Homo sapiens: one gene and its partner. The protein of the gene in region 1 purifies or fractionates together with the protein of each later gene. This does not show direct contact. Each region holds a gene or a part of one and is shown on either strand. Other genes may lie near its edges. The genes, in order: CCDC172 and MIPOL1.

Evidence for each region.
Region 2: the proteins of CCDC172 (region 1) and MIPOL1 purify together in Homo sapiens (affinity purification with mass spectrometry; 2 studies listed by BioGRID and IntAct, with this or other methods). This does not show direct contact.

Annotation. Positions count from the first base shown.
Region 1 is NC_000010.11:116,358,652-116,362,486, reverse strand, and holds part of CCDC172 (coiled-coil domain-containing protein 172), read right to left. Parts: intron 1-3,835.
Region 2 is NC_000014.9:37,498,298-37,502,132, reverse strand, and holds part of MIPOL1 (mirror-image polydactyly gene 1 protein), read right to left. Parts: intron 2,226-3,835; coding exon 1,995-2,225; intron 1-1,994.

The DNA of each region.
Region 1 (3,835 bases):
ATTTAAGGATACATTTATAAAAGTGTGTCTAATTATGAATATTTAGAAACTATCTTGTACATCCATTAATGAGAGACTGGTTATATAAATATGGCATCTCCATATAATAGCATGAAAAAGAATGAAGATTAGTACAAACTAAAATGAAAACATCTACATTTTGATAAATAATTAAGCAAACTGCAGACCAGTGTGATTCATAATCCCATTTTTGCTAAACACACACAGACATACCTATGTACATGTGTGTACACACACAAACAGAAATAAATTCTGACAGTATACACATCAAACTTTTAACAGTAGTCACACTTGGGGTGTCAGAGCAAGGGTATGAAAAGCGATCTCGGCTCACTGCAAGCTCTGCCTCTCAGGTTCACACCATTCTCCTGCCTCAGCCTCCCGAGTAGCTGAGGCTACAGGTGCCTGCCACCACGCCCGGCTAGTTTTTTTTGTATTTTTAGTAGAGACGGGGTTTCACCATGTTAGCCAGGATGGTCTCAATCTCCTGACCTCGTGATCTGCCCCCGTTGGCCTCCCAAAGTGTTAGGATTACAGGCATGAGCCACCACACCTGGCCCGCCTGTTCTCATAATAAAAAATATATACATGTGAAAATATACATATTTATTTATGTATCCTTGAAAGAGTTTGAAAACATGTTAATACCATATTGAGTTTATGCCTTCTTACAAGTCTAAGGACCAACAGTGTGACCTCTATGACCAACTTAACTAGATGACTTTTTCACTGAAGAGGTCACAGCACTGCTTTACTACATGACATTAATGCATTTAGAGTCTCTCGTAGCAGGTGTATATTAACTTTTGTGCAGCTTACATTGCAAATATGCTCTTCACAAACCATACTACCTTTTTTTCTTTTCATTTCTTTTTGTTCTTATTGCCCTGTCTTGTGGTGATGAAACAAAGCCACACCATCTTTAAGTGCTCAGAATGAAAATCTCATGCTGTTGCCTATGCAGATTTATTCCTAAAACAATCTTCCTATTGCATTAAACAAGCACAAATATCAGTAATACAAGATGTACAACCATTCTAGAAGGAAGTTTTGTGGTGAAAGAAAATTCCTGAAATGTTTAAAATTGTCTGTTATGTTATAATTTGGAGTAAATAAAAAAAATCATGATCAAGAACTGTGCATTTTGGTAAACCTCGTGTTGGGTAATAACAAAAAATAATAGGTTTGTGCAGTGGCTCACGCCTGTAATCTTAACACTTTGGGAGACTGAGGCAGGTGTATCACTTGGGGTCAGGAGTTCGAGATCAGTCTGGCCAACGTGGTGAAACCGTGTCTCTACTAAAAATACAAAAATTAGTCAGGCGTGGCGGTGCATGCCTGTAATCCCTTGCTCTGGGATACAGAGCAAGACTTTGTCTCAAATAATAATAATAATAATAATAATAATAATAATAATAATAATAATAATAATAGGTTTGGGGGTTTACAGAGGCCCAATATATAATACTCTTCTTTCCTGCCTGAAATCTGCCCAATCAAAAAATAAGAAAGGCAGAAGGCAAGCATAAATGTCACATTTATTACTGATATAGCAGATACTGGAGAATGTGGCTTAAATCTGTAGGCAAGGGTTTGCTAATATCAAACCCCAGTATTAGACTAACTTAACTCACACCATTAAAGGTAGCAGTGGACCCCACAGGCTTTCTCTTGTGGAGTCCAGCAATGATAAAACTTAAGAGATGGAGAAGCAGAGTGGGAAAACACGCTCTCTGAGGCAGGCAATGTTCCAAAGAGACAGGGAAAAGAAAGGGGCTGGGCTCCACATTTCCCAGTTTGCCTTTCCAGATTCACCGATCAGACTGTGTCACTCCTCTCCACATTAGGATAAGGGAATGAGGGACTAAGGGGAGGTCAGCATGATTAAACTTGTAAAGCTTTTTCCACATCGAAGAAAAAGATAGGAATGAAAATAATCCATTCCAAAGTGGCACTTTCCCAGTGGTTAGAATACATAATGTCTTTGCAAATAACACTGAAAATATATGAAGATGAACTTTAATCTTTTCGTAGTGAAAATTCAATTATATGTAGACTCAATTACGGGAACAAATATTTATTGAACACTATGTGCCCTGGACTGTGCAAGATGCAAAGAGTGAAAGAAAGATGAACCATAAGTGGGGGGAGAGCTGGGTTTCAAAAGGGTTTAACCACTATGCTTACTGCCTCTTAAGACTCTGATCTTTATTATTTCTGTTCTCCCTACACTATATGAAAAAACCAGATCAGTCATAATTACATACCTCTTTGGGAGGTTTCTGATAAATTAACCTAACCTATGGTTTAAGTGTAAATCATAGCAATATTCTATAAGTCAGCTGCTTAAATGTGTGTTAGTTACACACTTACTCTTCAAAACAGAATGTTTAAATAAACAAACATCTTGATATTTATAAATAGAGACAGATTATTTAAAGCAGAGACTATTATCATTCTGAATGTGAACCATTAAACCATTGTGAATGCAAACTTTACCTAAAGCAGAGACCACTAAACTGTGAAACACTGGTTCTCTACAGTAATGGATAACATCAAGATAGATTCCAACAAATAACCTGAACATGGCATATTAAGCTTTAAAACATGAACCATAATCGTTATAAAAGAATTTCAATATAGACAAAATAAAGCATGTATTAAAGTTGTCTAATTACTAAAACTAGAAACAGTAAGCTCATAGAAATGAATTAATATTAAAGATTTCCTCTGTAATTGCTTTCTTACTGGTTAAAGTTAATGAATGTAGAAGTCATAATAACCTTAAAATAAAGCTGGTTCTCAACTTGGGGGGACTTTGCAACCCCCTTCCCCAGCGGACATTTTGCAATGTCTGGAGACATTTTTGGTTGCCACAACCGGTGAATGCAGGGTGCTACTGCATCTAGTGGGTAGAGGACAGGGTTACTACTAAACATCTCACAATGCATTGAACAGCCCCCGACAACAAAGAATAATCTGGTCTAAAATGTCAACAAGGCCAAGTTTGAGAAATCCTGCTATAAAAATAACATCTACTCCATTAAGAAGTCAAACCCGACAAATTAAGAGAAATGCAACTATTATGGAATTCCATATACATTTGAACACAGAGATGAAAAAGACTATTCTATCCCAAAATTCAATAACAACATCAACTTAATTTTGGCCTTCATGATGAAGCTGAATCAATGTCTTATTGTTTTTTGACATCATTAGCTTCTTGTTATTGCATTAATTGTAAGACTGATAGTCCTCTTTCCTAAAATCTTTATACTCAGTACTTTGACTTCACTCTTCACACCTGGGAAAACTTATGAAACATGCTAATTGGGAAACTAAGTACACATATCAATGAATGAAAAAGTAGGAATTGATAAATATTGGCATTTAATTTAATAACTGCTAAAATGCAATGAATGGACTAAATATATGCACTGGTATTTCTTTCTATCCAAATTTCCTAAGTCATCATTTGTGAAGGAAAAAGCATTCTCTAACAGACTTTGTGTGTTTAATTTTAACCCAGAGCACATTTTTATGACTGAGTGATAAACCTACAAAACTGGAGTTCAGATTGGAAGCCCTCACACTACTAACTCTAATGACACCAGTGGGCATCACCATTTTTTAAAGTGCAAAAAAAAATGAATGAGCAGATTGTCATTATCAAAACTCATTCTGCATCATACATATCACCCAAGAGATTGATATTTTATGCTTATAAAACTTAACATAAAATTAAATTGCAAATATTGTCTCACAATCTACTAAAATTATTGCCTAAGGTAATACACTGCTAATATGAAGCATT
Region 2 (3,835 bases), on another chromosome or scaffold:
GCCTTGCTGAGCTGCGGTGGGCTCCACCCAGTTTGAGCTGCCCAGCCACTCTGTTTACCTTCAAGCCTCAGCAATGGCAGACGCCCCTCCCCCTGCCAGGCTGCAGCCTCACAGGTGGATCTCAGACTGCCATGCTAGCAGTGAGCCATGCTCCATGGGCGTGGGACCCACCAAGCCAGGCATGAGAGAGAATCTCCTGGTCTGCAGGTTGGTAAGACTGTGGGAAAAGCACAGTATTTGGGTGGGAGTGTACCGATTTTCCAGGTACAGTCTGTCACGGCTTCCCTTGGCTAGGAAAAAGAAATCCCCCGACACCTTGTGCTTCCCAGGTGAGGTGACACCCTGCCCTGCTTTGGCTCACCCTCGGTGGGCTGCATGCACTGTCCAACCAGTCCCAACGAGATGAACCAGGTATCTCAGGTGGAAATACAGAAATCACCCATCTTCTGTGTCGATCAACACTGGGAGCTGCAGACTAGAGCTGTTCCTATTTGGTTATCTTGGCCATTCAGTAAAGTTATTTAATTTAAAACATTATCTGAGATGATATTATTTCTACTTCTTGGTGTATAAAAATTGTTTTTTTAAATGAAATGATGATGATAGTTGATGAGATCTAAAAAATAAAAGGTTGATAACACATCCGAAGATTTTTTGAAAATAGAATTGGTCTGTGGGAACCACTGTTTTAGGGAATTTTGGTCATGTATAGAAATTAATGGATTATATATAAAGAAAAATTTGAAATTTGTATGTATTTGTAGACTTTAAGCAAACAGAGCCAAATCAGATCCTGTCAAAAGTTACTGATTGTGATTTATAATGAAATGAGATCTACCTATACATCATAGTGTTCTTAGAATATTAACGTACATTGTGAATAACTGCATATAGTTTCTGACTGAATATAAACCCCATCTTTAAACTTACAAATATATATAATACCTACATAAATCAAAAGTTTCAAGGTACATGGCTAGTAAAGATTAAAATGCACAATTTCTAAACTGTTTTAAAATGGTCTAATTTAAAACTACTGACTTACATAACTTTGGCTATTAATCAAAATATAACTTCAGGGATATTGAGGAAATGGTCAAGATGACATTTTCAAATAAGAAGTAGTGGGAAGTAAGAAACCTTGATGTGAGCACTGCTTCACAGTGTAAAACTGACATAAAAATTGTTAAGGAAAAAGGTATATCTTTGAAATTGAAGGTGACTAGATATGTGAATGCTGTAGTGCTGTTAACAATACATAAAGAAGGTTAAAATATATTCTATTACATGTGTTCTATGTATTCTATTACAGTGGTTCTATTACATTAAAGGTGTCTCAGAAAATTCTGCTACAATGTTCAAGTCCATTAAATTAACAAGTGACTTCTTTGCCTGGTAAGCTGTTTGTTAACATTTTGCTAGCTGTCAAAAGGACTGACAGATTATGCAGCTTTATTTAAATTCTAATAAAAATGCAAAGATCATTCAAAATAAACATATATAATTATGCACTGTGAAAAGCAGTATTGAATACTTCAGAAGAACAACACAAGAAAATTAATTTCACCCTACTGGTTTTTATGCACCTACAAGTCTCAGGTTGCAATGTCACAGATGATCTCAACTCAAGCAGGATTATTGTAAAGCTAAATTAGTTCAGGTGGTAACTTGACTGCCTCTTCCCCTTGCTAATAACTTTGCCTATTAACTTGTGACTGTGAAATGATTTAAATAGTATGGCCTCCATGAACTGATGATCAGTTATTAAATAAAAATGGTTTGCCCTACAGGGTAACAATGGTTCCCAAGAAAATGACTTTTTTGACCCCAAATATGGCATATGGTATCCAATCTAAAAAAGTTCACTGGGTTAATTCTACTTTTGTTCTAAACTATTAACATGATCAATAACTACATATTGTTTAGTTCCCAAAAGAAAGTGTTTTGTTTTGTTTCATGTGTTTGAAGTATTATTACAAGATCATTTAACTTACTTTTGAACTTTTTCATTGGCCACTTGGGAGGCCTCTCTGGCATGTTGAAGTTGTAATTCCATATTTGCTCGCTCTGTCAGAGCTTGTTGCAGTTGAGTAGCCAGTTCCTCATTTTGTTGTTGAGTGATGGAAACAATGTTCTCTCTGTTTTTTAAAGCTTCTTCATATGTACTAAGGGTATAGTTAAACTGATCCTTCAGATTTTCTTCTTGAGATAAAGATTTGTGTAAACTGAGAAAATATTAAAAAAAATTTAAAGATAAGTAATGTAAACTGAGTGATCTATGATCTATTTAACAAAAACCTCCATTTAGAATCTCTAGTTCTAAAAATCAATAAATACTTAAATGAGCAAATGAAAATAATTTTTATGTCACAACATTATAATTGATAATTTCTCTGCTTCTAGGCTGAAAGCTACCCAGACAAATGATTATGCTACCAAAGCATACAAAAAGATGCTGCAAGATGTTAATTTAATTATATCAGTGTAAATATTACATTCAATTTTCTTTAAAAGGAATAGCAGAGAACTGGAAAATAAAGTATCTCTAGGCAAATAAAAGAATGTAATAAGCTGAAAGAAGTGAGAAGAGAATGGGCATTGGTTTAGGAGATCGAGGGTCTATTCTGCCAAGCACTTAATGAGAATGGATGAGGTTTATGCAAACACTGACCAGCCTTCTACATAGCATTTTCTACTTGATCTTCTACTTGTCACAGTTGAGATATAAATGAATTTAAAATCACTAGTCAGATTGCACAGAAATAAAATGTATTCATATATACATGTGTATATTTTTTTTTGGCTAATGAATCTCTTAACGAATACATCTACTCATTAAGTCATACAGAGAAATAGCATATAAATTAAGACTAAATGAATGCAGAAGAAAATGCAGACAAATAGAATCCTAAAATGCTAAAGGTCAAATCTTTGATATGTCATTACACCTACCACCTGAGGTTATTTTGAAATGGCACCAAGCACCTCACTCAATTAAATAAAGACATTTTGAAAATATAAATATTTAATAAGAGAAATTTAAACTCCACACAGGAGATGTTCTTTTTTATTAAATATCATTTCAGTATATGCATACAAAGGAAATGTCGATTGGAGACATTTGAAGTAAAACAACTTAACTATATAATATAGATTGATAATGGGAAGGAAAGCAATATCATTATTAAACCTGCAAAAAGCTAGTTAGTGAACTTTGGCATTGTCCTAATATCTAGCCTGATACTTTCTTTAAAACTGTTCAAAGTAATTATAAATTTCCTCTTTTAGTTTAAGTTATCTATAAGCCTTTACAGTATGCTTATTTTGGAGAAGGCGTCCCATAGAACTAGGATGGATATGAAACAAGGACAGTCAGCATACCAAATGAAACCACTTCAGGATTCAAACCCCTAAGAATACGGACTGTTACTAAGCGCTGGTCAACTGGTTACTACACAGAAAATTAGAATAGTGTGTAGTGCCACATTTGTAGAGTGCAAAAAATACCTTTTTTCATGGTTTGCACATTGTTATTAATCTAACTATCCCTACTTCATTTCTTCTCAGATTTTTCTACCAACCCATATGCTTAAAGGCTGTCTCTTGCCCATTTTACTATTTTTTCTGTGTCCTCTCACTTTCTGCATTCTTGTCTGTTCCAAGTTCCAATTTTCTTCAGCTCACCCTCTTTATCTCCATGAAAGATGCAAGAAAGAAAGAAAGAAAAGAAGAAACAAACTAAAAGCTAAACCTTAAAAAAGGTACTTGTTTATGTTCTTTATATTTAAAACATTAGTTATATTTTAATTGTTAATTACGTTTTAAATTACACAAA